2 linked regions of the Homo sapiens genome follow. The protein of the gene in region 1 interacts with the protein of each later gene in a pairwise test. Each region holds a gene or a part of one and is shown in the gene's direction. Other genes may lie near its edges.

The links.
Region 2: the proteins of GRB10 (region 1) and MEGF10 interact in a two-hybrid assay, tested with the Homo sapiens proteins (one study listed by BioGRID and IntAct).

Annotation. Positions count from the first base shown.
Region 1 is NC_000007.14:50,607,561-50,623,396, reverse strand, and holds part of GRB10 (growth factor receptor-bound protein 10), read left to right. Parts: intron 1-4,111; coding exon 4,112-4,227; intron 4,228-5,257; coding exon 5,258-5,326; intron 5,327-7,049; coding exon 7,050-7,187; intron 7,188-8,516; coding exon 8,517-8,627; intron 8,628-10,557; coding exon 10,558-10,656; intron 10,657-15,836.
Region 2 is NC_000005.10:127,429,396-127,445,231, forward strand, and holds part of MEGF10 (multiple epidermal growth factor-like domains protein 10 isoform a precursor), read left to right. Parts: intron 1-3,967; coding exon 3,968-4,114; intron 4,115-5,291; coding exon 5,292-5,426; intron 5,427-5,965; coding exon 5,966-6,094; intron 6,095-9,043; coding exon 9,044-9,172; intron 9,173-11,343; coding exon 11,344-11,472; intron 11,473-13,602; coding exon 13,603-13,731; intron 13,732-15,836. UniProt on the Homo sapiens protein: Membrane receptor involved in phagocytosis by macrophages and astrocytes of apoptotic cells. Receptor for C1q, an eat-me signal, that binds phosphatidylserine expressed on the surface of apoptotic cells. Cooperates with ABCA1 within the process of engulfment.

The DNA of each region.
Region 1 (15,836 bases):
TCACTACTGGACGCACTTGAAAAAGTTGTTGCAAAGCCCCTTGCCCTGGTAGGTGAAGCCCTAGTGAATGATGGTCTGTTTTATGATTCCCAGTTCACTTGTCCCTTTAAATGGTCCCTTCCTATGTTAGCACTGCCCCCAGGTTCTACCTGTTGGGGATGTTTCTCAGTCTCAGTGTCTGGAGTGGAGTTCTTAGCCATGAAAACACTGTCCCTGACCCAGGCCACTCAACAGCCGACAGTAAGTCCAGCTGAGGCTGCCAGAATGGGGCAGGTTTTTTGGAAGGTGTCCCCATCCCTTCTGCCCCGAGCATGGTGAGCTGCAAGTCTCTGGAAGGTTCACCTTAGCCAGGGCAGCTTCACACATGGAGGATGCAGTGATATTAAACAGTCAGCCTGCAGACATATCAAGTAAACAAATTATATTTTAAAAGATATTTTTGGCCAGGCACAGTGGCTCATGCCTGTAGTCCCAGCACTTTGGAAGGCCAAGGCAGGAGGATCACCTGAGCCCAGGAAGTTGAGGCTGCAGAGAGCTGTGTTTGCATCACTGCACTCCAGCTGCTTGACAGAACAAGACCCTGCCTCAAAAATTAAAAAAAAAAAAAAGATAAAAGGAATTTTGAAAAATACAAATTTAAACATACAAAACTAGTATCTTGATGCCCCCTGAACTTGAAAATGGGATTGCAGATAAACCCATCCCTGGGAATGTGGGGGGCACCTGGTGCCTGGGGCTCTTGCACCCAGGCCCCAAGTAACTGTAGACATCAGGCATACTAAGGTCAGATAATCTGGGAGAGAGGCTGGAACTTACACAGAGAACACAGTAAAGAGAAGAGGGTTTCCGCCAGATCTTACAAATTTCAAGGATTTGAGGAATTCCGTTGTCCTGAGAATTAGGTTGAAACAGGAAGAGCAACAAGTCCTTTTCGGGCTGTTTACAGCTTTGTGGTTGTTCCTGGTCAGATGGGAAACACCGTGGCAGTAACTCTGGAGGTCCTGTGGCTGCCACGCTGTTGGATGCTGACAGCTGGACATGCAGAAAGGTGTGGAGGGAGAAACAGCCGGCGCCTGTTGACTCTTGCTGATTAGAGGGGGCCTTTTGCAGGCTGGTTTTATGTCCCTCTCTCCCTTTTGTATGTGAAAAGCAACAAAAGATGTCCTTTCCCCCACTAAAATTTATAAATAGAAGTCCACTTACGGCCTTATCCACACGTCAGGGCTATCTCACTGATTACTCTGTTGACAGTTTCTTAGCCTGGGAAAGCCCTGAGCTTGCTGACAGCTCTTTTCTCTCCCTTGGGTGGGCTGTGCTGAGGAATGATGGGCAGGGAGTGGCCCAAGGGCTGCAGCTCGATGTGAGGCCGAGACAGTGGGGTGCACAGCTTCCGTGCACCGGCTCTGCCATGGCCCCTCCACTGCCAACTGGCAGCACAGGTTTCTGCCGAGGAGTCACACTTTAGCTGCAAGGGTTAAGGCAAGGAAGTAAGATTCTCTTTTTTGAGTTGTCTTGATATTTAAATATTTTTTCTTGAGGAGTAGAGTAATGCCAGCATTAGTTTCAGAAATTTGAAAAATACAAATGTACTTCAAGGAATTTTTGCCCTTTCCATTTCTTGAAATTATTTTTGGAATATTATCTTGAAAAGTAGTGTTCCCATTTAACTTAGGCCATTGTAATCATATGCAGTTTATAGATAGTGATGTGATTGTTTATAATCATGCAAGGTCATTTGAAAATACATATCTTTAAATCATGGAGAAAATTAAAACTGGAGGGAAGATCTTTGAACAGATGTGCAGTCGATGGCCAACTGGAACACTGGTGCCTGGAGCATTTGTGCCAGGGGCACTCAGCTGCATCCGGAGGCTGCACAGCTCTGGATCTCTGAGAAAGGGGTCACCTGCCACGTTGTGTTCACTGACCTGCTGTGAGTGACGAAAAGGGAGTTGATGTTTTGTTTGTCTTGGGACCCACCTCTGGGGATGGTAGGCGCCCTCTGGAGTCACCAGCCTCAGAAAAGCACACTTCTGTCAGGATACACAGTCAGTTTCACAGCCCACCGGTTATCCCGAGTTCCTGGGCCCCCCTTTGCCAGGGCACCAAGCCCTCACCTGTCCACCTGGATCTGACCACCAGGGACACGTCCCCCTGTGTGTTTACACTGCCATGTGCAACTTTCCCATGATCTTTCCAGGGGAGGCGCAGGGAGACAGGAAAGTATTGTCCACAAGGATGGGCGCCTGCGTGGGTTTGGCCACCCCCTTTGGGGCTGGTGGCTGCCCCAGGCATCCTCTTTGGCTCTCCTCAGGGTTCTTTGGAGACAAAATGCCCTTCGCTTTGGAAACAGACATATCCTCCTCATTTAGGTAGCTATCACCTCCCATTTTTATTTCTCCTTATTTTGCCTGATAAAAATTTTTAGTTCTGTAAATCAACCATCAACAGGTTATTAGATTGTTGGTTTTGGTTTTGGGTTTTTGTTTTTGTTTTTTCCTGTAACTACAGAAAGACATTTTTCTCTGAATAAACATTTCAACAGAAGTCATTGATTTGTTTTCCTTCTGGAAAATCCATTTTCAATGAATGAACCTCTTTTTGGAAAGCAAACGTAACAGTTTTTGTTGCATGTTCTTGGTTTCTCTCTTTTTCTATCATGGGGAGACATGAGGGCCACGTATTGGTTCACATGTTGCTAGCAGCATTCCCTCCCAGACAGGGACAAATGGGAACTGCTCCACACTTGGTGGTGGTGCCAAGTCTGAGCTTTCTGGCAGCCACGGGGAGAAAATTCCTTTCCTTCACAAACTCTGGCTTTAAATGTGTTTTTACCAAGGAATCCTTTCCTTGTAATGTCAAAACCGGGGCCGAGCACGAATCAGCTCCAGAATTTGCTTCTGCATGCCGGTCGGGGCTCATCTGAGATGAGTGCCCATGGCGACAGTTGTTCGTTGTAGACGGAAAGTCTTTTCTGCATTCTGAGATCACTTTGACTCAGAAATGCTTTTGCCTTTAACTTCATTCCTTCCTTCCAAGATGAAACTTTCCTCAAGATTCCAGTCTGGCTGCAGGAGAGGAGGGTAGGGTCTTAGGATAACAGAACTACCCTGGTGTCAATTCCATAGCATGTTAATCTGTACCATTTTGGCATCACTTCACACTTTGACCCTGCTGTACATTTGTTCATCTTGTTTATTCCATGATTTAATAAGGTTAGTTTCCCATGGCCACCATCCTCCCATGACAGTTTCTGAGGAGGTGCCTGGGAAGGGACGTAACTGCCATGAAAGGGAGCAGTGCGGCCTCTCTGGGCACACGCTGTTCTAGAGTATGCTGAGTTCTTCCCGCTCCACTTGGAACCACTGTGTTCACACAGTGAGGGAAGCGACTTTTCCCTTTCTGGGGGACAGTGCTGCTATGTAAGATGCTGTGAAGGAGGCGTGTGCGTACGTGCATGTGTGTGTGTGTACGTGTCCACAGCGGGTGCTGGAGGATGGAGTGTGTTTTCTTCCCTGCCTTCACGTGTAATTCGGTTGACAAGAACTATTCCATGATGTGCGTGCGGGCTTCAGTGTGAAAGATGAGTATGTACGTACAGTCTTGCTGTGCATCACGGCCTCTCCCACAGTACACAGCACCATCTTTTCTGGCAACCAAGTTTGATGTCATCAAAAAGCTTCTATCTCCTTCCATCTCTGCACCTTCTTGGTCATCCCCCTCCTCCACCTCTTTCAAGTTCTTTCTCCTTTGTCTTTGAATATTGTCTCACTTGTTATAGTCTTTACAAGAGTTGAAATTTCTCAATTTAAGGGCAAAATCATTTGCTAAGAGTCTTACGGGCTCATTCCTTAACATCTGGTTGATGCCAAATTCAAAAAGTATATAAAAATAAGTATTGACCTGAATTCTTCATGCTGTATATCTTAAGACCTCTTATGCATTTGGTAATGCATTAAAGAGAGATTTAAATTTAGTTTCCTTCCTGACCTCATCTTTATTCATAATGTTTAAAGAAGAATAGAAAGTTGAACAAATCTTCCATTTGGTTGTAAAGCTACCATGAATTTCCCACCTGTTGCGTCTCACACGTGATGCTTTGCCCCTGCAGAGAGGTGCTTGGAAGACCATGAGCTGGTGGTCCAGGTGGAGAGTACCATGGCCAGTGAGAGTAAATTTCTATTCAGGAAGAATTACGCAAAATACGAGTTCTTTAAAAATCCCATGGTGAGTCTTACCTCTTCAGGTTTGGGGTTTGGGACTCTTGAAATCTTGAAGTTTATACTTGGGTTTCATAGTATCAGATTAGAAAGTGACTGAGAGGCATGGTGTAGCATATGGGTTTGAGAATCAGAGTTGTAGTTTAATGAAGCAGTCCTTGCTTGAAACCCAGTCTCATGCTTCACTAAATGTGCGTGGGACTGGCTGAAGGTAGAGGTCTCCTTCTTCACATAGACACAGTGTAAAGGGGGTTAGTCTCTAAGACAGGAGCTGGGAGAGGCTGGGTGTTTTCTGTTATTTTGAAAGTTCTCAGTTGAACTGATCAAACACTTAGCAGAAGAAAAACTCATTATTCTCTGCAAATAGCAAATATATTTTGTGATCATACGTGGAAGAATGACTAGAGAAATCAGTGCGATTGGTTGGTGTCTTGAGCTGGTCACCTTGATCTCTCTTTTCTTTCTTTGGGAGAGGCACTTGTCCTGTGAGAGGCCAGGATAGGGAGGGCACCTCCTAGCTCCTGGGGCACTCGCTGTCATCCTGAGTCATGGGTCAGAGCTGCATCAACTGGGGAGAAGACCCAGGGCCATTTCTGACTCTGATAATGTAGCTGCTTTTTTATTCCAAAGTAAGAAATTTGAAGACTGTTTTTGGGGAATGCAGCAGAACAGGCTTTTCTCGTGACTGGGCTTACCTTTTAGTTTCAGGAATTCTTTATCTCACGCTGTGCACTTGTGCCACTGGGCTGGGACGCTGGCATCGCTCTTTGCCATGGAGCATGCTGTGAGACATGAATCCCTTAGTAAACATAGTTGGTATTCCACACTAGTACCCAGCATTTCAGGAAACAAAATACAACCTTTTGAAGGAGGTGTTTCTTCTGTGTGATAGGAGAATAAAAAGGACCGCCATTTTAAATACAGGTGTATGTAATTATACTGGTAGGAATAGTTTTAAAATTGACATATCTATATGACATACCTTCCCTCACTTTGAAGCTAACCTTTTACGTATTTGTTTTTTCCCATTTTCTTAGAATTTCTTCCCAGAACAGATGGTTACTTGGTGCCAGCAGTCAAATGGCAGTCAAACCCAGCTTTTGCAGGTACTGGGCCACAATAGATCTCTGCTGAAATAGACTTTCTGAATAGAAATCCTCTTGGAACTGAATGGCAGCATTGTAAAAAACCTAAAGAGATCGCATCTTTCACCATTTATAACCTTGGCTCTTAAGCCGGAGGGGTGGTTGGGGGGAGGGTTTAGAGTAACCAGAAATTAAAAGTTTCCTTGGAAAATCTGTGTGTAGCTGGGTTCCTTCTAAGCCAAACAGGCACTTACACGATGCCCTTGCTCTGACTTAGAAGAGTCCAGTGATGCCACTGCTGAGTGTGGGCCAGGGGGTGCATGGAGAAACCCCAGTCTCAGGGCTCCCTCCCCAGCTCCTTTCTGAGCAGGGGTCCCAGGTCAGGCCACCGCCTAGCTGCTTGGAAATCTCTGCAGAAGCACAGAGTCTATAGTAAAAGATGATCGGGTTACCACAACAGACTTTTAAAAGTAACTTGCCATATATTACAAATAAAGAAACCTGCTTTAATTGTCCTGATTCATAAAGTCTGTTCTAAGAAAACCTGGTCTCTCCCCACCTCCTCTTCCAGTGGAGGGAGCCACCAGGGCCTCTGTGCCCAGCTCTCACACACACTCCTCCGGGGAAGCTGGGAGTGGGGAATGGGAATGTTACAGCTACACCCTAAAAATGTGCCTGTGTACATGTTAAAAGTGAGAGAATAAACCATTTCCTAAGGCCACCAACAAGATCCAGGTGACATTACATGTAAGAGAAACTACTAAAATGTAGTTCCTACAGAATTCTCCTCATAAGCCCTTTTTCTACGTTGTTATCACCAAATTTGTTTCAGCATCTAAAAGATAAGAGTTTCAGAGCTCTGTTCTGGTGGTGTCTTCAGAAGCCCTTCTGACCATAGCATGTGTCTGTTCTGGCGAGAGGTGTCAGCACTAAGTTACCACCTATACACAGTGAACAGTGAAATAGCAGATTCTGTTTTAATTGCCTTGACTTTGAGAGGATCCATGCGCTTTGTGAAGATGTGCAGTGATCTCTTGAGACTCAAGAAGGACTGACCCAGGTGCACCAGGGCTCTGTCCGACGTGCCTTTCCCACCTGGGGGAAAAGAGCTTTGTCCCCTCCCAGTCTAGTAGCAGGACCTGCCAGCATCACCTCCCCAACTTCGCTCCATGACCTGGCCCTTGGCCTGTCTTCCCTTTGATGAAAAGCGTAGTTTCTTGTTTTGTTTTGTTTTGATAAAGCCTTTATTCTTAAGGCTGCCTGTGGGAAGAGTTAGCTGGAACAGGGGGACATCACCAGGATGTCCTGCACCTGGGTGCATCACTTGCGGACACATGACACCTTTTATGTGACCCTTGACTGGAGGGGTGCCTGGGTAAAAGTGGCCACTACATACTCACTGTCAGTCTCCAGAGTCCCAATCACTTGGTCATGGCACTTGCTCTTGCCCTCAGTCTGATATCAGACTGGATCCTTCAGTGCACTATCTTATAGGGAAATTCATGACTCGTGTTATCACCAGTGTTGGAAAGGTCCATTTGCTTGCATATGTTTAAATACGAATTATGTTCTATGCAACACGAATTGAGATGGGATTTTAAGACTTTGGAAAGGAGAACACTCTCATTTTGATCCAAAAAGGAGTCTTTTAATAATTCAGAAAATGTCAGCTATGCTGATAACATGTCTGCTTTAATTATTTTAGATTAGCATTATGTGATTTTAAAAATTTGTTCTTCAACAGAATTTTCTGAACTCCAGTAGTTGTCCTGAAATTCAAGGGTTTTTGCATGTGAAAGAGCTGGGAAAGAAATCATGGAAAAAGCTGTATGTGTGTTTGCGGAGATCTGGCCTTTATTGCTCCACCAAGGGAACTTCAAAGGTGAGCTTTAAAAGCTACCACCACCAGCCCTAATTCTGCCACAGTCACTCCCCCCAGGTCCTCAGAGTGAACCTGGGCTTCATTTTTAAATGCACCTTAGACTCCTCCAAGCTCAGGACAACTTCTTAATAAGCTAATTGTGCAGCAGCTGAACTTGGAGTCACAGGTTTCCTGGTCTCGCTCAGAAACTAGGTAATAAATAATACAGGCCTAAGAACCCCACCTGCCTAGCCCCACCCCCACTGCGGGTTGGGAGCAGACACCCCTGGCTGCCCCATCACTTCAGAGACTGGCCTAGTTCTCATAAGTTGGGATTTAAGCTAGCTGTAAAGATGTTTGATAGACTATTGCCACCCTAATGCCAGTGTAACTTTATGTATCATAGATATTTCATGAAATAAACTGCAGGCTTGCATGTATCCCCAGTGAGAAGAAGGTGGGAGATGGAAAACAGCTGCAGGCCCTCAAAAGAGAGCTTAGGCCGGAGGCTCCTTTGCTCCCATGTACACTCTTGTCTGCTCTCTTCTTGTGCTGTCCACATATACCCTGTGGCAGGAGCCTTGTCCACCCAATACCTGGCTGAGCACTTACCATCTGAGGGCTGTGGTCTCTTTTGCTCTGGCCAGCAGAGGTGAAAGGGAGCTGGCGGGACCCCAGCACAGGTGTTGAGCATCTGGGAACCGGCTCTGGGAAGGTGTTGGGGCCGGCTCTGGGAAGTCAGCAGCTGCCGACACCTGGGCCAGAGAGAAGGGGCGTCTGCAGAGAGGGGCTTTGAACTGACACAGGGCATGGTAGCTTCCTGACCTCCCAGCTCTGCTGTGTGGCCCGCTCACTGTCCTCGTGTGTGCTGAAGTTGGGAGGGTATTTCGTAGAGCAGGAAACAGAGCTGGGCTGGAGAGTTGAGGAGGAGAAGGGTGGGACAAGCAAGCTACCAGTGGGAAAACCCAAAGTACGGTTGGACTCTGGACTCACAACAAACCAAAGGCAGACAGGCCCTGTGCTCTTAACTCTGACCTTTGGGTTATAGATTTTCTCCTGCTTTTTATCTTGAATATCCGGTCATGGGGCTTTGATTTGCCAGAAGTATCAAATACGTTCCAACAGCCTTGTGTGTCTGAGAACTGGGGAAGTGGGTGTTTTGGGTGAGACTGGGTGAATTTGGTTTTAGTTTAGCACTTATTACACCTCGCGTAATAATCATATGTAATATGTATAGTGTCATCGGGGAAAGTGCTTGTAAGTGTGCAGAGACTGCCCTCTGTCTACCAGAGGTGAACACATTTGCTCTTTGCTGTGCTTGAGACTTTAACCTGGCCAGTGTTGTCACAGGAACCCAGACACCTGCAGCTGCTGGCCGACCTGGAGGACAGCAACATCTTCTCCCTGATCGCTGGCAGGAAGCAGTACAACGCCCCTACAGACCACGGGCTCTGCATAAAGGTACCCACGAGCTGTCCACAGACGGCGCGCATGCTCAGCAGCCCACAGGAGACTGACTTCTTCTCTTGCCCAGCACTTGATTGTTGCTTCTATTGTCTTCAACAGAAACATAGTTTCACACTGGATTTATCCATTCCTGTAAAAACATTTATTGTACACTTGCTGCTATCAGTCCTTGAGTAGCTCAGAAGCTCAAGGACAAGCAGACAGGGATGGATAATGTGGCTAGTGGGCTCAGTGTTTTAGGGAGGGTGGCTTTTGGCATCAAAGGGTGGGCTGTGGCTGTAGCCCAGTACTAGTAGCTGGAAGGGGAGGTGGGGCAAGGGAGGGGACCCCCAGCCTGTCACCTGGGTTGCCTGCATGGTACTGAGTGAGCTGATGGCTTCTGTGTGGGCCTCTGGCTGTGGGGATGGTCAGACAGGAATAGACACAATGCTGCCCACCCTCTGCATGCATGTGTGTGCTGGCATGCACACACACGTGTGCACACACATCTACATGCACATACCCACACGTGCATACATACATGTATAGACATACACCTTTGTGCATACACACAGGTATAGACATACACCTTTGTGCATACACATACATTATACACACATGTACATAGACACACATACACATGTGCACACACCTATAGGCAGAGCCCACTCCTTTTCCCCTGATGAGGTTGTGGTGGTATTAATAATCATAATGGTAGATGATATTTACTGAATGCTTACTGTGCATGATATGTTCCACTGACAGTTTTACATCCATTATCTTAATCTTCACAGCCCCTTGTGGGATAGGAAGTTGGCCACATTGCCCACATCCAGTAGCCAGTGAATAGTTGTGCTTGGAGTTTGCCCTGTAGGCTGACTTATGAGCCATAGCCCAAGCCACATCCCGAGAACACACAATACGGGGAGCCCCTCCTTAGGGGAAAATTTCTTTCCAAAATATCACCTCATACCTTGCTCAGGGAATACTCTTTCGGTTATAAGTAATAGGCGTCTAATTCACACCAGCTAGAGGCCCAAGGCAGCCTCAGGCGGGGCTGGAGGTATGAGCAGCAGCTGGCACTCTCCCTTCCCACCAGCCCACACCAGCCATGCTTGCCTGTCTCTGCAAACGCAGTCTCTGCTTCTCTCATAGCACCAGCCGAGCGCAGGGTAGTCACACCTGTCCCTCAACCCCTCCAGATTCTTGGGAGGGAGAGCTGGGGTGTGTCCAGCATTGTTTCTTGAGTCTGAGGTCGGGGGTTCTTCTGGAGATGCAGGTCAGTTTATGCCTGCAACAATTCTCCTCCCTCACCAAAGGGCCCTGCCTCTGGAGGGGCACCTGTCTTCTCCCCATGGTGCCTACTTCCCCTTCTGTCTCATTCTCCAGAGCCAACATCAGTCTCCCTCTCTGGACCTTCTACTTGGGGTCTGATCTTGGGGCTGCTCAGACATCAGAATCCCTGAGCTCCTCAGGGGTTGCCCCTCTTGGCTAAGCCCTGCAGCAGCCCCTCCTCTCAGTGGCCTGGGGGCAACTTTAAGATCTCTCCTCCTGTAAGTCAGAAGGCAGGTTCTCCTCCCATAGAATCCAGTCCGTCGACAGAGTTAGATGCCTCTTCCTCTTTGTCCTATTGTGCTTACCACATTACGTTGTCCTGTGCTAGTTTGTTTTTCTGTCTCCTCTGAAGTTCCCAAAGGATGGCTTATTATTCAGCTAAGTGGTACACAACCTGGGGCCAGTCCATGGTAGGCACTTAATAAAGTCTTGTCAGGAAGGTGGATGAATGAACGCTTAACACACAGGTGTGTGTGTATCTGCTGTGCTCCTTGCTAGGGGGATCTCCAGCTGGTTGTCTCTGGTTTGTGTCAGATGCAGCCCTGCCTTGACAGAAGCTGTTTCTGACTCCCTGTGTAACACTAACAGGACTTTCTTTTACCTCCTGTAGCCAAACAAAGTCAGGAATGAAACTAAAGAGCTGAGGTTGCTCTGTGCAGAGGACGAGCAAACCAGGACGTGCTGGATGACAGCGTTCAGACTCCTCAAGGTATGTGACATCTTGCGGTTTGTGTTGAGTGCACATCTCTTCGTGGAAAATTGGCCTCTGGACTTGATGTCTATTCTGGCAGGAAAATGCTCGTAACTTTTCCGCTGTTCTGTCACAATATTTTATTTATCAAATGTAGTTAAGCATCTTTCTAAACAAGATCTCAGGAGCTTTTAACAGAGGGCCTAATATTAAACAGGGTAGAGCTAGGTTTTCCGGACTCAGTACTACTGACATTTTGGGTAGAATAATTCTTTGTCGGGGGTCTGGGGGACATCCAAGCATTGCAGGCCACTTAGATGTGTGGCATACCTGGTCTCTGCCTGCTAGATGCCAGTCGCACGCCCGGCCAGTTGAGACAACCAAAAATGTCTCTAAATGTTGCCAAATGTGCCCTGAAGCCAGAGGATGGGGAATTGCCCCTGGTTGAGACCACTAGATTAGAAGAATAGGATTCGAAAAATCAGGACCAGGGAGAAAGGAAATAGTACATGAGGTGTTAATTATTTTCACGACTGAACCAACTCTCAGGTTCCCAAAAAGCCAGGGCCATGAAGTAAACATGATGAATTATACAGTTGACTGAAGCTCCTCAGCAGAGACAGTACCTCCTGACTGTAAGTTCTAAAGGAAATTTATCACGTGGTACTGCATATAGAGTAATGCCCTTGACAGCAATTTCATGCCAGTTGCCAGAGTGATTTCATAGGGCTGTTTACTGTAGTCACTTTGGATTTCCCACAGTGTTTCTGTGCACATATACCATATCCCACATGTCTGGAATTAAGTCTACAGAGTCCTTGTGAGTTGTAAGTTAGCTGGCCCAGGTGAGCTTGGCTAAAGTCCAGGGGTCTCCATAGGAGATGTTCGTTTAGTCAACTGGAGCCAATGGATACAATGGTCTAGGGATTTCTTTACAAAAACTCCCAGCCTTCGTTGAACTGTAGTGGCCTTTGAGCTGGTCCAGAGACTCAAGGTGAAGTCAATTAAGGAGATGGAGGAACTGAAGGAAGCATAGCTCAAAACTTTCCTGGAGGTGCTGCAGATCCAATTCTGAATGTAGTCCTGTTGTCCCATCCACTTGGCAGGTAGCATTTTGCACCCAGTAATCCACAGATTCCAGAGACATTAAGGATACATCCTAGTGCCATTTTTATAGGATGCTGGGGCCCAAACCAAAAGTTCCACAGATTGGCTTCCTGTATCTCTCTCCCAGAACCTTATTTTATGTTTTCACTGATTAAAAAAAGAATTATGGAAATCAAAACTTTACAAATTCATAATGGAAGAGGAAATGTCCATGTTAATACATCATAGATCATAGACCACTCCTGTGTAAGCCGGTTTTCAGTGTAAGGGTCATCAGTGGGAACTGGTCACATAGGTGACATCCATTGAGGGCAGTATTCTGCATGGACCTCCAGAAAGAATGAGATTGCTCTTTGTGTCCTGTTGCGGAAAAATTACTAACAATTAAAAAGCAAAGTACAGAACAGTATATAGAGAGAAGGCTACATTTGTGTGAAGGGAACAGGAAAAATTGGAATATTTGTATTTGATGGTATGCTCATGAACATTGTGTGAGCTGCAGGAGAGAAGAAAGAGGTTGCTTAGTAGGGAGAGGAGATGGGAGAGGCAGCTGTGCAGATAGGGGCAGCGGCCAGGGGTGATCTTTTGAAGCTGTCTGTATATGGTTGAAATTTTAATCTGCAAATGAATCATCTGTTTTGGAAAAGGCAAAAAAAAAAGGAAATGAAAAAGGAAAGTGGTAGTATACTCCAAGAAGCTATGAATTCTATTACTTTGGGTAATATATAATAAATCCAAGTATCAGGTTCTTAACCACTGTTTCTTGGGTGTCTCTCCTTTGTTGCGCTAACATAACGAGCCACAGGAAAGGATGTGGGCAGAGTGACTAATGCAAAACGAACTGACTTTATTGTTGTCAGTGTTAACAATGATGTGTTACATAATATTAAGATTTTTTTGAGCATTTGCTATGGGCCAGGCATTCTTTATCACTTTACTGTTTGTGACAGCTCAGTGACATGCATATTATCATCCTCATTTTGTGGATGACAAAACTGAGGCCCAAGCTGTAGCTGCCACGATGTGGCAGAGCAGGGTCAGAGCCCTGACATTCTGGCCCCAGAACCCCTTTCCTCACTACCATGCTTTGCTGCCCTCCCTAGAGCCACCTGGAAGCTGCCGTGAGTTCTGAATGCATTCCTCTTGTCCCAGCCACTTTGCAGGGAAGCACTTTGCATCCAGTGATACACGGATTCTAGAGTCATTAAGGATACGTCTTAGGTACTATTCTTATAGGAGGCTGGGGAGCCAGACCTGACAGGAAGGTGGCAGTGATGGCCTCGGGGCCGGTCTCAAGTGGAGTGCAAGTGATGTGTTTCTGCCCCAAATAGCCATAGGATTGTAATGCAATCGAAACGCCATTTGAGTGTTGTCGGCACTGATTCATTGCCCACTATACAGAAATGATAACCGGGATAGAGTTAGGGACAGTGGGGAGGTAACTCTTTATGACTCCAGGGTCTCCATGTTGACATTCATTCTAAAACAAGGCATCCCGTGTGTGTGCTCTGCCTTCCTCCAGAGGAGGACACAGGACACCGGATCCCCTTTTAGAGGATAAGAGGGTCTGAGGGCTGAAGTTGACAGGGCCCTTTTACCATCTACTACAAACAGCATCTTCATATCAACCATGGAAAGGCAGAGCTGGGTTGTTATTTTGAATTAACCTAGGACCTTCTTACATCTTTACCTACACAGATACACTTTCTTGAAAAAAATGAATAAATCTTATAACTTGGGTCTACATAGGAGAAAGCTGGCATGGCTTTACTTAGCTTTTCAGAAAGATGCTCTTAGTAGCGCCAGCAGATAATCTTTTGTCTCATTTCTTCCTGTTACATTGTTTGTTAGGTAATTTCTTGGAAGCTGTAGGAGCTGTGTGAATAGTATTAAAACTTTGCAACAATTATTTATTGCCATCTTTCCTCCTCCCTCTGTCTTCTAGAAGTCTCTTAATCTACTGTAGAAACTCATCCCCAAGAGGGAGGTCTTGCCTCATCCACACAAGAGTCCCTAGTACTGATTGCTTTGGTTTTACATGACCTGACATTGAAAAGGCAATGAACGCAGCATTAAACCTTTGCAACAATTATTTATTACCATTTAATCTTTTCTGTCTACACACACCCATATATGTAAATATATACATGCAAACATGTGAATAAAATAAAATGTGTATGTTATTAGGTACCCAAAATTGAGAATATTTGTATCTTCCTGGTATGTCAATTCTAAGACATTATAAAATATGCTTTATTAGCAATGCTCCTTGCCCCAGAGTCTAATCTGGCACATATTAATTTATTTAATGATTTTTACCTCAGCTTTGCTTCATTACACAGTTTTTCTTGGACCATCTTTTTTCTACTTTTCTGGGTCCTTATGTTTAAGGAATATCTCTTATAATCACAATGTAACTATTTTACTTTGATAATCTTTATCTTTTAACCAAAATATTTACTGTGATTTAATTGTATTATTTAGTGTGATAATCATATTTGTATTTGAACCTGCCATTTGCAGTTTTTTCCAGGTTGTCCCACCTCTCTTGTATTCCTTTTCTCTTAATTTTTTAGATTTATTAAGTATATTTATGTTTTTCCCTCTGTTAACCCAATACGTACATGTACATTTACTATTTTCTCCTGGTTACCCTAGATATCACATCTTTTTTTTTTTTTTTTTTTGAGTCAGGGTCTCACCCTGCCTCCCAGGCTGGAGTACGGTGGCATGAGCTCATCTCACTGTAGCCTCAACCTCCCGGGCTCAAACCATCTTCCCACCTCAGCCTCCTGAGTAGCTGGGACTACAGGCATGCACTTCCATGCCCAGCTAATTTTTGTATTTTTTATAGAGACAGGGTTTTGCCATGTTGCCTAGGCTGGTCACAAACTCCTGGACTCAAGCAATCTGCCTGCCTTGGCCTCCCAAAGTACTGGGATTACAGGCGTGAACCACCGCGCCCGGCCTAACATGCCCCTTGAACTTATTAAAATCTTTTATAATGTAGTACATTTACTGACTGCTTTCAGGCAGGCATGAGGACCTTTCACTCCATTTGCTCCATTGTCCCTTTTGAAGGATTCTTGTCATATATATAAAACCTCTTAAGACATAATGTTATTGTTTTATATACTCTTTAATCACCTACATCTTTGCACTTTAATATTTCCTAAATTTGCATTCTTCTCTCTGGGACTAGAAGACCTCAGCTTAGCGGTTCTTTTCATGTGGGCCTGAGAAATTTTCTCACTTTTTGTTTCACTTTCATTCTTGAAGGAACGTTTCACTGGTTATAGGATGCAAGGTTAGCGGTTATTCTCTTCTGCATCTTCCCACTGCATTGTCTTCTGAATCTTATAATTTATGTAAAAACATTAGTTGTCTGTCTTCCCATTGCTTCTGTGAAAATAATGCACGTTTTCCTCTGGTTGTTTTTGACATTTTCTTTGTGTCTGTTTCTCAGCAATTTTTCCATGATATATGCTCGGAGCGGGCTTACTTATCCTACACCCTGAATCTGTAGCTTGACGTCTTTTTGTCAACTTTGGAAAGTTTTTGGCATTATCTCATCAAATATTTCCCCTGACCTGTTCTTGCTCTTCTCTTGCTGGAGTGCAGTCGTTCCTGTATTAGACCTTTGCATCATGTTCTAGGTATTTTTATCTTAGAAATGAGTATGTGCCATGAGACCTAGAGCCAGAACTGAGCTTAGATCCCATGAAAGAAGAGCTGTCCCACTTGATGACTTCACTTCCTGTTTCTGACTCTTTCTTCTTCTCCACATGGTTGGAATGTGTGATTTGGGTGTGTAGGTTGGGATGCTGGATGTGTATGAGACTTTGCAGGGCCCTGAGTCCTCATTGCCAGGATCAGAAAGTGCAGACTACTGAGCCAGTTAGGTGGCAAGCCTCAGCTAGGGAGGGCACTGGGTCTGGAACAGGTCGTGTACGTTCAAAGTCGTGACTGCGGGCAGCTTGCCTCATTCCTCTGTGCTTCAGTTCTGTGCTCTGTAACATGGGGATAATTATAGTGTACAGCTCATAAAATGGAGAGGATTAAATGAAATAACATAAAGCACTTAGACACAT
Region 2 (15,836 bases), on another chromosome or scaffold:
TTTGAGTGAAGACTTATTCAGGAAAGCAAAGAATGCTGTGGTTGCTCCATCCCATTGGAAAGTGGTCCTGAATATCATACAGGAAATAGGAATTATGTGTATCGATTCATTCAACAAATAAATTTATTTAACACCTCCCATGTGCTAGGTGCTATGGTGAGCAAAAACAGGCATTGTCTCTCCCTCAGGGAGCTGCCAGAATTAATTACCTTTGGTGGAGAATTGGAGGGGAGTCTTCATCTGCATTTTCTTCTATATCTCTCCAGAATTCCTCTTCCCCGCATCTCTGCTGACATTGACTTAGTTTCATGCCTTGTCACTTTGATCATTTTTTTTATTTGGGGAACCCCAAATGGGGGTTCTGCAGGTAAAAGAGCACCTGACAGGTTTTCTTTCTTCCCAGGCTCAACATCTTCTGGCCATCTTCTGCCCTCCTATAAAGCACAAATTTAGTTGTGCCCCTTCCTTCTTAAAATTGTTCATTTGGTCCCTGTTAACACCAGGGGGAGGTTCACACTCTATAGCATGGCGCTCTTGGCTCAACTCAACTTGGCCACTGCTTGGCTGCCCAGATGTCTCACCTGCTCTCCCCAGCCCCTGAGTTTTAGCTGTACCCAACACTTGCAATTCCCAAAGGACAGACACTTCTTTGGGCCTCTGAGCCTTGCCACCACTGTTCCCTTAGCCTGCAGTCCTCTTCCCCCTTCACAAGCTACCTCCCTTCCTGATCATGATCCCCAGGCAGAGCAGGGTGTGCCTGTTCTGTGGTCATTATCACCCTGGGGTTACATTTTTAAGAAAACTTCTCACAGCAAACCAGTAGCTGGCCAGATCCCTTGAATGTTTGCTGAGTTGGGTTTCCTTTTCTGCCTTTGACAAACAAAGAAACAAAAAGATGTTTTGTAGGACCCTAGCAAAGCTGGCAAAAAATAAGAGGAGATAAATATAAATAATACACATGTACCCACACAGAGCCAGAAATAATGGTTAAAGCAAAACTTACAACTCTTCATCCTGGAGAATATTTCATTGCAGGGTTATCCTTACATGGAAGTCACATCAGCAGTCATATACCTGGTGCGACTTAGAGAAACACTTACCCAACACTCTCTTAGTGATACTTACTGCCTGAAATTCCACAATTAGATATTTATTTCTTAGGCTCTTAGAATGCATGCTCTCTTAGAATATCAATATTCTCCAGAGAAGGTACTACTCAGCAATAATAAATGTATCTTGTCCTTTTCTGACTGTAAGATGAAGGGAAAAATAACTAGGAGGGCACAGAGGGCCAGAAGGGGAGAAGCAGCAATAGGAGAAGAGGGTACAGCAAGAGGAGGAAAGACAACTCCACACCTTTCCCTGGAATTGCCCCCTAACTGAGACATACTTGATATTTATCTTCACATAGATTAGGCATTAGTATCTGCAAAATGCTGACTCATTTTTTACTGATGACAGAGTAAATAAAAGGGCTTGAATTTTTAAGAGGGTGTTGGTAATAGAATTTTTATAATTTATATTCAAAGGAAACATTTCTTTGCAATTCTAAACTAAAAGTTATTTTCAAGTAAGCTTGGGTCTGTTGAAAGATGCTTATATGATTGGACACAGAAGGTTTGATCAATGATCTATAGAATTTGCTATGATTCTCTGGAAATGAAATGATGGGTAAACCATATGAAACAAGCTTATCTCTGCAGTGGATCTTCTTGCTATAGGGTGGGCCTTGTTACTTATACAAACATTACCAGGATATAGTTGATTATGACTGATGGCTAGGCTAATCAGCTGAACAAACCTCTTAAGGGAAGAAGAATAAGTTATGAAAGAGAGGATCTCTTTATTCAGATTTGCCTATCTGGCCTGTAGTCATTTTTCTTACCATGCTCTGATTGAGAATAGGCTAAGCTATACATAAATCATGATAACCTATGATATAAAAAAGCAGCAAATACTTTTGACCTAAAGTGTACTCCATTCCATCTTAACTGAATTTATTAAGTGCAATTTGAAGTAGTGATTTGGCAAGTAGTTGATAAACTAAGTCATCATAAATGGCTAAATCTTACCTGTCCCCCAAGTCCCCACCCTAACAAAAAAGCATAAAAAATCGGGACTGCTTTTTCAGGATGATGATCAGTCAGATTAACAGGATAATTACTCAGTTTCCACTTCTTCAAAATCTTCGTTGGGATTTGTCTTGATGGCATCAGACCAAAATGCCCTGGGTTGATTGTCTAAGTCTCTGTGATAAGCAGGTGTCCCCATCTTAGCTGTTGTTAAGCAGGAGTCTTGGCTCACGGTCAGAGTCTAGGACCTGAATTTGAACTGAGAGCGAAGTGTTTAGCAGGTTACCCTTGTTGGTACTTTCTTTAAATTCTCAAAACAAAGTTTAGGTTTGCAGCCTCATTTTGAAGTGGTTTACTGCTTAATATGTTTGATGCTTCTGCCCAGTATAGGTGTGGATATAAATTCCAGGTAAGATTCTGTGGCTGATGTATCACATCTGGTGAGGGTAGAGTTTGCAATTTCATCTCAGATTTTCAAAAGAGATTTGAAAAAAAAATAATATATTTATGATTGCAAGAAAAAAATCAACATAGTAGGCCCAGATTTCATACTTTATTCTATGGGAAACATTTAAACCCCAATTGGTTTATGAACAGACCTGGTCTCCTTTCTTCAGCCCATGGTCCGAATGAAATAAAAGTCTATTGTTGGGTCAAGCTAGACACAATGAGGTCTGCATGCTTTCTTGCCTATTTAATGGCCTTTACCACGTGGGAGACTTTCAGAAGGAAAAAAACAGGAACAGTAAAAAGTGGATCTTCTTGCTATTCCAGTGTTCACCGGAAATGGTGTACCAATTAACAACATTCACATTATAGTTTGGGACTGCTTCCATGTTAAGGTTCAGACTGTGGTGACTTTTTGCCTGATTACTTTAGAAGCCAAAACTGTAACACAAGACATGACCGTCTCAGCATCGTGGTACTGGGTGGTTGTTAGTATTCTGGAATCCTGGAGGGTCTGCGTGCTTGCTCTTAATGTGTTTTCATTTGGTCTGAGGCCAGCAACTGCCAGTTCACTACTAATTATAACTTATTGCCTTTCAATGTGAAGAACATTTCTTTGAGTTGTGAGGAATTCTGGCAAGAAAGAGGCCCCTGTTGTATTTCCAATACGAATGTACAGAAGAGACTTTTATTTATCTCAAATAAAACCTGGTTTTAGTTTTATTTTTGCAAACTTAGCTTTCCTTTCTGTTTCCTTTTGTCATTTTTTTTAATTCTAAAGTTTCTCAGTATTTAAAATTAGAGTTAAACAACTGCATACAGTTTCATAATAATCGATAGCATAGACAACAGCTACAAATAATGTCAGTTGTGATATTCTGCCAATATCTCTCCAATGTCAGGTAAGATTTTTAAGGAGGAATTTGGTGGCACGTGTCAGTGCATCTTTCTGTTCTGCACAATGCACCATCAAGTTATTTTAAGATTATGTTTATTTGTTTCATCCAGGGGAGGGTTTTCTTTATGTAAAACATTTTATGGAACTGTTCATTGCCTTATCCTTTTACACTTTATTTCTCTGTGAAAACAAAGAATGGGAGGAGGAGGAGGAAGTCACCAAGGGCTAAAAGATATCGTATTGTTGATAAATTTTACTTGCAATAGACAGAGCCCTTGGGCTTCCACTTTATTGCCTCCTCCTGAAGAAGAAAAATCAATATAACAAAAGTTTGTTATTCGTTCTTCATGACTCCATAGAAAATCGGTCTGGGTATTATTTTAATGTTATGATACTGTGTATTGATGTTTATAAGATGGTAACTCTCCATTCATTGCTGCTGGTGATCCTCAGGTTTAACACTGTGAGCTTAGTCCTCATCTATGAATTAGCATCTGCGGAAACTCCGCACTGCCTCTCACTCAGCCTTGCCCCATGTGCATTATTTCAGGTGTCCACTGTGACAGCGTGTGTGCTGAGGGACGCTGGGGCCCCAACTGCTCCCTGCCCTGCTACTGTAAAAATGGGGCTTCATGCTCCCCTGATGATGGCATCTGCGAGTGTGCACCAGGCTTCCGAGGCACCACTTGTCAGAGGAGTAAGTGTCTCATTAGGCAGTAATTTCCACCTTCCCTTCCCTGGGCACCATGTATCGAATAATGATCTCTGTCCCACCTCTCAGTTTATAGTGATGTCCTGTTGCAGTTGAAGGCAAAAGAGAGTGTAATGGTTCACTTGTCCTTTGCAGAACTGTGTTCCCTAAGAGCTTCATTCTTTCCAGCCTTCAGAACTAACCTAACAGATGGGGATTTAACCATTTCTTCTCAATAATTACTTCATTGCCTCATTGGCACAACCATCAGGATATATTTCTTCACCCTTCCTGAAAGCTTTGGAATGGTGTTCTAGAAATTCACTGACCTGTAAATATGTTATTCAGCAGTTTGGCATTGGCCTTACCTCAATTACCAGACGTCAACATCAGCCAAACCTTGAGGCAAATCATTCATCCTGCTAGTAGTCTTAAAATCAGTGCTATGGGGAAAATGGAATTGCAAAGTTGAAAAAGGAGACTGTTGACATTGGTCCTTAAGACTTCTGAGTTAGAAGATTAAGTAATCTTTTAGTAAATGCAATCAAAAAAGAATATGTAACTAATTATAAGTTATACTATTCTAATTTTTTAAATTGCCTTTCCCCCCATAAGAATTCTATGCAGTTATCATATATTTAAATCTGAATAGTATCTTGGCAAGAACTTAAGTATATAGCATTTTGGTTAATCACTTTTCGATTACAGTCATTAACCTGGACCATTTTGAGGAGGAAAAATCTTCAAATTTTGACTGTTGATCGATTTTTATTGCCAGAAACGACTCTTAAAGAATAAAGAATCAACAAATGGTTTGAGAGTACTTATTTGAGACTTATTAGTATTTCAATTTTTTTATCTCTTTATTTATTCAATGAAAATTCCTGGAGCCCTGCTTTATGCCAAGACTTGAGCTAACTGGGGCCTTAAATGGGAAAATAAAGAAGACTAAGACATTTGCTTGCTCTCAAGAAACTCAGAGTTTAGTGGCTTCTTTTCCTCATTAAAGGGTTCCTTTGTTCCTTTGTTGTTCTTGTTTTCTACTTGGAAAATTCTCCGTATCTTTTTTACTTTTTTTTAAGGTTTTGCTTTTTAACCTCTAAAACTTTAACTAGATCCCGATCTGGAATGCGAGACAAACGCATCTCAGAAGGATAACTGCTGATTTCCCTTCTGTTTTCAGTCTGCTCCCCTGGTTTTTATGGGCATCGCTGCAGCCAGACATGCCCACAGTGCGTTCACAGCAGCGGGCCCTGCCACCACATCACCGGCCTGTGTGACTGCTTGCCTGGCTTCACAGGCGCCCTCTGCAATGAAGGTAAGGCACGAAGCATCCCGGACAGCTGGGTGGTGATGAGCACGCCCCGGAGAGTCTGTCCTCAGGCCTCCCCTTGGCCTTCCTGAAGGCCATGTTTTCAGCTGTCTGCTGGGAATGTCTTCTGCTGTGCTGTGTCTGCAGCTTCTCAGATAGGACTTTGAGCTTTGGAAAAGCTGGCTTGCCACTCCAGCAAAACCTTTTTATTTCCTGAGATGTGCTACTCTTCAGTTTTAGCTGGACATGTCCTCCCATAAAAAATCAATATGCGGAAGAATTTTAGACTCCCAGAGCAAGAAGTCGTGAAGTCATATTTCTAGAAGTGCAATGATGTCCCCTGGTTTGTGATGCCTTAATGCAAATCTTTGGCTTCATGGATTTGTAAAAATGAGCCCATTCAAGATGAAGGATGCTGTTGAGCAGAGATAGCTACCAATGAGCAGCTGGGCCTGTGACCTTTAAAGTTATTTCCTGTGCTAAGATTCTAGGGTTCTGCGAGAGGGGTTTTGATTGTGAGTTACTGACCTATAGCTTATTCACAGTGTGTCCCAGTGGCAGATTTGGGAAAAACTGTGCAGGAATTTGTACCTGCACCAACAACGGAACCTGTAACCCCATTGACAGATCTTGTCAGTGTTACCCCGGTTGGATTGGCAGTGACTGCTCTCAACGTAAGTCTTGTTTGAGAACAATTAATAAACTGTTCTTATTTGTTTGTTTTCAGATTCTTTAGGATTGAAGTATGAGTGTTTTTATATAATCAAGAAAGAATATATGACTAATTAAAAGACACATTCTACTTTAAATTCTTTTTTTAAAATTCTTTTTTTTTTTCCCATTACGACCTCTATGCAATGGTCCTATGTTTAAATCCAAATAATGTCTTGGAAAGAACCTAAATATGTAACATTTTCCTTATCCCCTTTTCAGTGATTCATCGTCCATTGAAATAAAGCAAAAACAGCTGTATTGAGAAATCTATCTCTTCATTTTGTGTTTATCTGGAGAGTTAATTACAGAGAAAGAAAAAATGGAATTAAATGATGTGAGCCTTAGAAACCTATTGGGAACCTGAGCGAACTGCCCACCTAATATGCTTAGCTTCACCTTGGCATCACCCAAGTGCCTTCCACACCACTGGATTTCAGACAGGAATTGTGTGACCCTATAAGGGACTATATAGATGACTCTTAGAGCACCCATGTCATGAAAAAAATGACATCGACTATAAGTCATTCATGAATGTTTTGAAAGGGTCAGTGCAATGTCTAAAAGTATTCAACTTTTGACCAAAAAATAGCATATGTATGGAGTAATCTGGTTTCATTCATTTTAAATTTTATGAAACACTCTCAGTTTATATTGAATTCCCCCATCATGCACATAAGAGAAATCAAAGAATGACTGTGTGCAGTCATTTTACATGGTGCTTTATTGATAATTTAATTCAAACTTCACAGTTACAAGCAACCTGCAAATACTAATTGATGAGCAATATATTTTTTGCTGGAAGATTTTTTTCTGAATGTTAATTTTTTCCATAAGTAGTCCAGGCTGTACCCCATTTTTTAGGAATAAGGGAAGAGAGCTAATAAATCTCAGAAGTGTAGCTCTTTGGTGAAAGAAGTGTTATGCGATATGATTTCACTCCATTCTGGGGGCATCACTTCAGAAGAAATCAGTCTGTTTAAATCTACATGTGTTGCAAGGGCTCTGACTGATGGTTGGGCGTATGGGTTTGGGAAGAGTAAAAGGTCCAATATCATTGTCACAAAATGATTGATTTATATTGCTCCTTTAAAAAGTAGTCTTTATTTTGGAAATTTGTCCCTTCCTCATTTGGAGGAGGAATGTGCTGAAAGGAATAAAAATAGAAACACAACTATGAATGGAGACTATAGTGTTGCCTGTCCCAATAATCACTCCACAGGAAGCTGACTTATTTGGCAAAAGCCTTTGCTTCTCCTGGGGATCATTGATTTCATTGATTCCCTTATGGACTCTGTGGAACCATCTTCATATTTCTTCTTAGCTGATTGTGAGCCTGTCTAAAGAGAGCAAAGTCCTTCACAGTGAAAACACAGACTTTGAAAACTTAAAGGGGTACATTTAAAGGGGCAGGTGTCCTTGGGAAAATGATTTTTTAAAGCACTATCTCTACGTTTACCTTTTGGGAATATAAAGTTGAGTGATGCTTATTCCCATTCTCTGATCATAACAAATATAGGGAGAAAAACCTAATGGCAGTGGGTTACCTCAGAAAAATATATTGTGAACATAAATGGGTTTACAGAAGCTGGTTAAATATCATCTAAGGAATAGGTTGTTTTAGGTAAAGAGTGCTTCACTGAGCATCAAATGGGCTAGACGCTTCAACAGTTTTCACTGAGTCTCACTGTGGCTTTGGGAAAGCTGTATTTGTCTAACAAATAACAAATATTATTATTAATCTATGTGACCTTGTACGAGTCACTATTAACCTTTTGTGTGCTCAGTTTCTTCATCTGTAAAATTAAGGTGTTGTATTTAGAAAATTTGTTCCAATGCTCACTCGAGACCTCAAGTGTCAGCTAGTATTTTCCCCTTGCTCTTGGACATGGTGCACACAATTATGGAAGAATTTTTTTCATTTAAAAAGTTACTTCATATGTATTATTGATTGTCTTTATAGGTCCACATTCCCTATGGGGTAGCCGTATAGAAATTACAGGTGGTCCTCCTTTTATGCAATTATGTTCCTAAAGTATTAATATGAATAAAAAGTATTTTTTGTCAATGAAATTATTTTACCCCCTGATCTTATGCTATTATTTCACAGATACTTTATCTGACTTTCTGATGTCTCTTCAATCGGCAGTGACCCCTAATGATTTAATTGTATTATTTTCTGGATCTTCCAGTTAAGAGTTTTTACAAGGAAACCAATTTTTACATACCGCTGGGAACCTCAATATTTAAAAGGAGCCTGAAGTGGCAACTCTAGAGTAGACTGAAGGGTACAGGATTTAGAAATTGTGAACATGAGCTACATGGCCTTGGGTCCTTTAACCTCTCTTGAGTCAAGTCATTTTCCACACCTTATCTCTGCTCAAATGTCCTCTCCTCACAGAGGCCTTCCTCAGAGGAGTAGCTCCCAAAATTATTGTCTTCCTTATCCTCCTTATGTTTTTTCATAATACCTACCACCATTGATTTTTCATTTTGTTGGTTGGTTGGTTGGTTTGCCTGCCTCCCCTACCAAAATAGAAGCTTCCAGAGGATGGTTTGGACTTTGTCTTATACTCTGCTATCTCCCTTGGGCCTGGAACAGTGTTGGGTACATAATAGGTGTTGAATATGTGTTTGTTTAATAACTGAATCTGTAAACTTGAGGTGATTTTTGCCCCAGCCACCTCACTCTGCAGTTGTAAATGAATACATATGTCAATAATGACAGTCGTTGTTGAAGTTGCCATGGCCATCTGGGATTTAGTGCAGAATTCAGAGCAGTGTGCTTTCTTAGTCCTGATGTACACTGCTAACCTCTCACATGCAGGGAGATGTGTAGAGGTGGATGGAATTCTCCCTACTTAGTATTGGCCTCAGAACTCTGATGGACTTCTCCATACCTGTAATTTCAGCATGTCCACCTGCCCACTGGGGCCCAAACTGCATCCACACGTGCAACTGCCATAATGGAGCTTTCTGCAGCGCCTACGATGGGGAATGTAAATGCACTCCTGGCTGGACAGGGCTCTACTGCACTCAGAGTAAGTGACAAGCCTTCTGAGGCTCACCAAGGGGAGCCTTGTCCAAGGAGGAAACAGCCTTACCCTCCGCATGCGTGACTGGAGCTCAACAAAGGTCCCTGAGGTTGGAGTACTTCCCTCTCCTAATGACCTGTAGACATATAAATTTCTCTAAGTGATTAAGAGCTACTTCATTCCAAGTATTCTGTCTCTAGGTTCTATCTCCACTGAGGTAGAGCAATGCTGTGTGATGGTATGCAGTTTATTTCTCTTCTCTCCTTTAACCAAATCATATTTATATGGATCAAATTCTCAATCCTTTAACAGCACAAAAGTTAGGATAAGTATAGAGATTAGAAAGGTAGAGAAGACAACAAGCCTCACTGCCTGATTTAATGTGCGCTCTTGGAAAAGGTGGAGTTCCGTGTTTTTCGAATGGTAGCAAGCTTCAGAATCACCTGGAGGACACAACAAACACAGAAGCTAGTTCCATCCCCAGAAAGCCGGAAGCAGCGAGTCTGGGCTGGCACCTGAGAATTGCCATTTTTATCAACTGGTAGTAATGCCAGGCTGGGACCATGCTTTGAGAGCCACTGCCCTAGTTCTTTTCCCCATTTTGTAATTCATAGCATCCTAACCATTTTTTCTTCCATTAGGCTTTTAGCATGATAGGATATAGTGTGCAAAGTACTTACTCCAAAGCTGAGCATCATTGGGGAAGGAAGATCATTCTCTGACCTCTTACCTTCGGTTGAATAAAGGAGACAAGAAAGGAAGGCATGTGTTATGGTTAAGTACTAATAATAGCGTATATTTTAAAATAATAGCAAGAAGCTGAGGAGGACAGATGGGTCTGAAATTGAGCAATTCTTATTTAATACTAATTAGAGTACATAATTAAAGAATAGGCTGAAAAAGTCTTAGAAACTTTCTAGAAGATAATGTAGACCTTGAACCAAGAGTTGAAAAGGATAATTGGCAAGGAAGGTAGCTGGCCCAAGCATATTCTTCAGAGTTCGTATATCTATAAATATTGTTTAACTTCTTAGAGAAAGGTACTTGTAAGATATTATTTATAATTCTAAAATTAGAACGTGCTTCAAAGAGAGAACCCTTTTTCAAGTGCAAGTAACATGATATAGTGGGAACAACATGGGGTCCAGAGCCAGACCTCCCTGTGTTTGAATCATGGCCCTGCCGTCCTGCCAGTTGCCAGCTGTGTGACTTAGGGTACTTGGGGCTTAGTTCCTGTCTACAAGACGGGAATATCCATCCCTGCATTTCTGGCCTGCTGTAAAGATTAAACAAGAGAACGCATGAAAAGAATCTGGCACAGAGTAGGTGCTAAATAAATGCATGACAGCAGGGAGTCATCGGTGCATACTGGCATCTGGGCACTGCCTCTGCTTCTTGAAAGTTCCATAAGAAAATGAGAAAATGAAAAGCATATGTAATATTTGGAAACAATCATTGAATCAGCCTGCATTGAATCTTTCATCACGCCAGAGATCCCCAAGACACTCTTGCAGGGCAGCTGCCAGCCCATGTAAGCCAACAGAATTTGTGGGTGTCTTTAGCTCAAGAGACTCGCCGGTCTAAGCATTGAAAATCATGCAGCAGTGTGAAGGGTTATTGCTTTTTACAAAGCACCTGTGAAGTACAATTGTTTTTTAAGGTAAGCATTCTAGTACACCTCTTCAGGGAAGTTGATATTATCTAAGATAATAACAGATACAGTGGACAAGGCTAGTAGCAACAATAGAGATGTTCTGTACTACAAGTAAAAGCATACAGGTAATTTTAATATAAAGTACCCGTCTCAGTCCATTGGAATTTGAGTCCAGGATTCTAGTAGAAATGTGAAAGAATGAAAGGAAATGTCCTATTCTTCCAGGATTGAAGGGATATTTTGTTAGAAGGCACTAGTCTTGCCTCCAGGGGTACCAGTGATGGTTACACTGACAGGAATGGAACTCTTCTGCCTCCTGCTTATGAATTACAACCTCCTTGCAAGAGCCCTGTCTTGGGACTTCAAAGAAGCTCTTGTGGCAAGCTCAGATATGTACTATTCACTGTATTCTCTGATGGCTCAGTGTCATTCAAGTTTAAACACAAATATGTTGGAGGCACGAGCCTCCAAGTGTTTCTCTTCAGCAGCCTCTTGACTCCTACTGTCCTCCCTCCTCCCACAGGATGTCCTCTAGGGTTTTATGGAAAAGATTGTGCACTGATATGCCAATGTCAAAACGGAGCTGACTGCGACCACATTTCTGGGCAGTGTACTTGCCGCACTGGATTCATGGGACGGCACTGTGAGCAGAGTAAGTATGAGAGTGTGGCATCACTGGGTGGTATTTTTTTCCTCTAGAATCACATTTCCTAGATGCCAGGAAATATTAAGGCAGAATTCACCACTCCGAGGTTGTTTGAGCTGATGGCTGGTTACTTCTCAGCATGACTGACTTCCCCTCCCAGAGGTCAGGCCTCCCTGGGATCATCGCTGGTTACTCACTGCTCTGGGCGGAGGAGGTGTGACTACAAGAATGAAGACAGAATTCAAGTTTTCCATTCTGTTCTTTTGGGCTCTCCCTTCCTCTCCTTCTTATTTTTGGAATGTGGCTGCTCAGAGCCTTAAAAGATCCAGTCGAGCTTTCTTCATGGCAGAGGCAGAACCCGGGTCTCACATTGGAGGACAGTACATTCGGTGGGGAGGAGGGCTGGTGGCCCAGGGCCAATCCCTGTTGCTGGTGAGGGAACACATCCATGCAAACATTGCCACCCTTTCAACAACCTTCTCTAGATCGTACTTTTATACTGCTTCCATTAACAACTTCTCATCTTAGTCTTAACAACCTTCCAGACAACATACTGCCTTAAAATTTTGTTTAAGTCCCACTGGGGGAGAATATGCCGTTGGAATTACTCATCCTTATTTTTTTATTTCCACCCCACTAGCTATGCATCCCCTCACAGAGTTATAAAAACATTAGTCTTAATAAAATTGAATATTGCAAATTAGTTTATTATTCCTTTCCTCTATGACTTTCTTTCAGTATTCACGATAAATAAATAAGGGCTTAGGGCTGTATCAGACCCACTTTCTTATGATAAAACCTTTTGGGCGGGAAAAGGTGAAGAACAATTCCTGTTCACCAGAGGTTGTACTCTTGGGAAGGATCTGCCAAGATTATGGCCATAGGAGTGGTGTGGCCTGGAAAGATTGATCAGGATAGCAGGACTCTGACAATAAAGCACCCCTCCCCACCCCACTCCACTGGCACCTCACAGAGCCACTCTGAACCTGGTTGCCTCAATTTTATGTGCTAAACCCTAGGGTATTTTTGCATATCCTCTTTCTAGCAAATATAACAAAAGTGACGTCCAGGAATCAGCTCACAACAGAGACAGCCCAATTTTAGTTTTGCATCACTGTTTCATTGAGTCATGAAAACAGATCCTGACTGAGTGACACAGTTGCATACATAACTCTATTGTGCATATAAATATTGTGTGTTTGTGTATAAATGTCTAAATATGCATGGAAACCAGAATAGGCTCAAAATTTTACTTGAATGCCAGATGACTGGTTAAGGTCTTATTAAATAAGAAAACCTCTTAAGTGCTTCCATGATTACTCTCAACAGCAAATTAAAGTGTCCCTATTTTTGGAGACTTCTCCCAATGCTTATTTGTAAACAGAAACCCTGTGTTTGACAGAGAGTTCTAATAATAATAGCACATTGCCCCCTGCTGCTCACTTTATGAAAAATATCAATATTTTGTCACGAAGATTTTTAGATTTAACATGCTTACACTATCCTTTGAAATTCATGCCTAACTCTTATTAAGACCGCATAGTAAGAATCCTATTACTTTCGTCTTCAAGACTTCAACAAAATCCAGAGTTTGAATCACTCCATAGCAAATGAAGTTCTTACCTAGAAAATCAGCAAAACTTGTTGTTTGCATCTTCCCCTATTCCTGGCTAATTCAATTGAGAATGTGCGTTTATGAAGATCCCTGAGCCTACAGTAAAATATATATGTTCTCAAGAAAGCATCTTTAGTGCTCTTCAGTCTAGGCCCCTTCCAGCCTACAGTTTTGCCTGGTGGACTTGTATCAAATTGCCCTTAGTGATTATCTTCATCTGTTCCATGGGAATTCCACAGACTCTCCATATACACATCATAGAGGTAAGTATGTAGCAGCTGAAAGTGTCAGGAGCTCTAATGTTGAGCAGCCCTGTCTCTAGCCCTGTGCAGTCTGGACTGTGAGTGCCACCATGATTCCAGGAATGCTGTCCAGTTCTGGGACACTCTTGGGGGTACAAGTCAGCCTCAATAGGAATCCCCTGAAAGGACTCAGCTCTAGATGTGCAGGGCTTGCAGTCAGAGACAGCCTTGCTCCAAATTCCCAAGGTTGGAAAGCTACATTTGACTTTCCTTCTCTAGAGTGCCCTTCAGGAACATATGGCTATGGCTGTCGCCAGATATGTGATTGTCTGAACAACTCCACCTGCGACCACATCACTGGGACCTGTTACTGCAGCCCCGGATGGAAGGGAGCGAGATGTGATCAAGGTAAATATACTAGCTAATGTTTGTAGCACTGCAGTATTGTGTGAACACCATGTACCAGGCAATGTGAAGTATTTTCACTTATGTTATCCAGCAGAATCTTCACCACAACTCTAAATGGCATAATTGGTTACTTATTTAATTGCCAGATGAATGCCTTATTGTTGCTGTCCTGCAGATAAAGAAACAAAAGCTTAGAGAGGCTGAGTAATTTTCCCAAAGTCACATAGCTAATACTAGAATATGTCACAGCTTTTGTGCCAGATTTTTGTTATTCCAAAACTCATGAACTTTCTACTGGGTCTATGATTTTTTTTCAGCTTTATTGAGGTGTAATTGATACACAAAAAACACACCTATTTAATGTGTACAATTTAATAAAATCTCGACTATCTATATACCTATGAAACCATCACCATAATAAATGAAATATCCATCACCATGTGTTTCCTCATGCCCCTCCCTACTTCTACCACCCCTTAAGCCCCAGGTAATCACTCATCTCTTTTCTGTCAGTATAGATTAGTTTTCATTTTCTAGAATTTTATATAAATGAAATCATACTGTACTCTTTTGGGTCTGGCTTTGTTTACTCAGCATAATTATTTTGAAATGGAACCATGTTGTAGCACATATCAACAATTCAGTTCTTTTCATTGCTGAATACTATTCCATTGTATGGATATACTATAATTTGTTTACCTGTTCATGTGCTGATGGACAGGTGGATTGTTTCCAGTTTGGGGCTATTACAGATAAAGCTGCTATGAACAAGAGTGAATCCAGTTTTTGCATGGACATGTGCTTTCATTTCTCTTGGGTAAATACCTAGGAGTAGAATAATTGGGGTATATAGTAGACATATGTTTAACTTTTTGTAAAACTTGTGCCCCTGGTTTTCAATTGGGGTGTATGTCATAACGACCTGGGAATAGTTGTCAGGTACATGGTCCTATTTGGGAAATTCCGATTCCAGGGTTGGGGACTTTGAGAAAGTGCTTCTGATGGTTCTGAAGCATGCCCTCCAGAGAGCCACAGCTCTTACTGCATGTGGTACTCCCTGGTAGGCAATAAGCAGTTGGGCTATAAAAGGCTTTAGAAAATTGATACACTGTTGTAGATGGAGTAATCTTAAACTGCAGACCATGTAAATATTTACAACATTTAATTTCTTTGGTAAAATGACTTTTACATGCTTATGATTTACATTTGACTGTCATAACAATAGAATGTGATCTTTCATTATCACGTCATAATTACAAATACTCTGTAATCTCACTACATTATCCTTGGTGGTCTGTGTTTCAGGGCAGATTGTTTTGTAAAAAGGTCCTTCAGCATTTAGAATCATAAAATCATAGGAACATTTACTTGAGCTGGAAGCAGTGACATGGAGGCCTCTTTTCTCATTTATAGATGATAAAACTGCAGCCTGAAAGCTTAAGTGAAAGTTCAGAATATCTAGGTCAATTTTTTTAGATGCCAGATTTCTTGAATCTCAACCCATGCCTTTAGCGTTATCACTTGACGGACCATAAGGAAGAACTATGTAATGCCCAATTTTGAATTTAATGAGTAAGGTATTAGGGTAATGCTATCAGGTATTATCAGGACAAATCTTTCTGTCATGGAAAATAACTTTGCACAGAACAATATCTTCTGAGGTAAAAGACCCATTGAAATTAGCAAAAGGTAGATCCTGTTCTTAGACTAGATTTATAATGGTGTTATGCTTGCTTGGAAGGAAAATTACTCTTAGAAATGCTAAGGATAGACATAAAATTTGGTTAAGCAGTTGGGACATTTAGCATTTAACTCTGCATAAGCTCAGTATTGAATAATAAATAAAGCAAAATAAAAATTAGATAAATTGTTACCCCAAATTAATTGCCAGTCTAAGTATTTAATCGGAAATATATAAGAAGCTCTCAAATCCTACTGTTGAATCTCTTTGGGTTCAGAAAATCCTGTCTCTTTCTTTATATTTTTTTAGGGACAGGGTCTTGCTATGTTGGCCAGGCTGGTCTCTAACTGCTAGGCTAGATCAGTTCTCCCGCCTCAGTCTCCTGAGTAGCTGGAACTCCGGGCACGCATCACTGTGCCCAGCT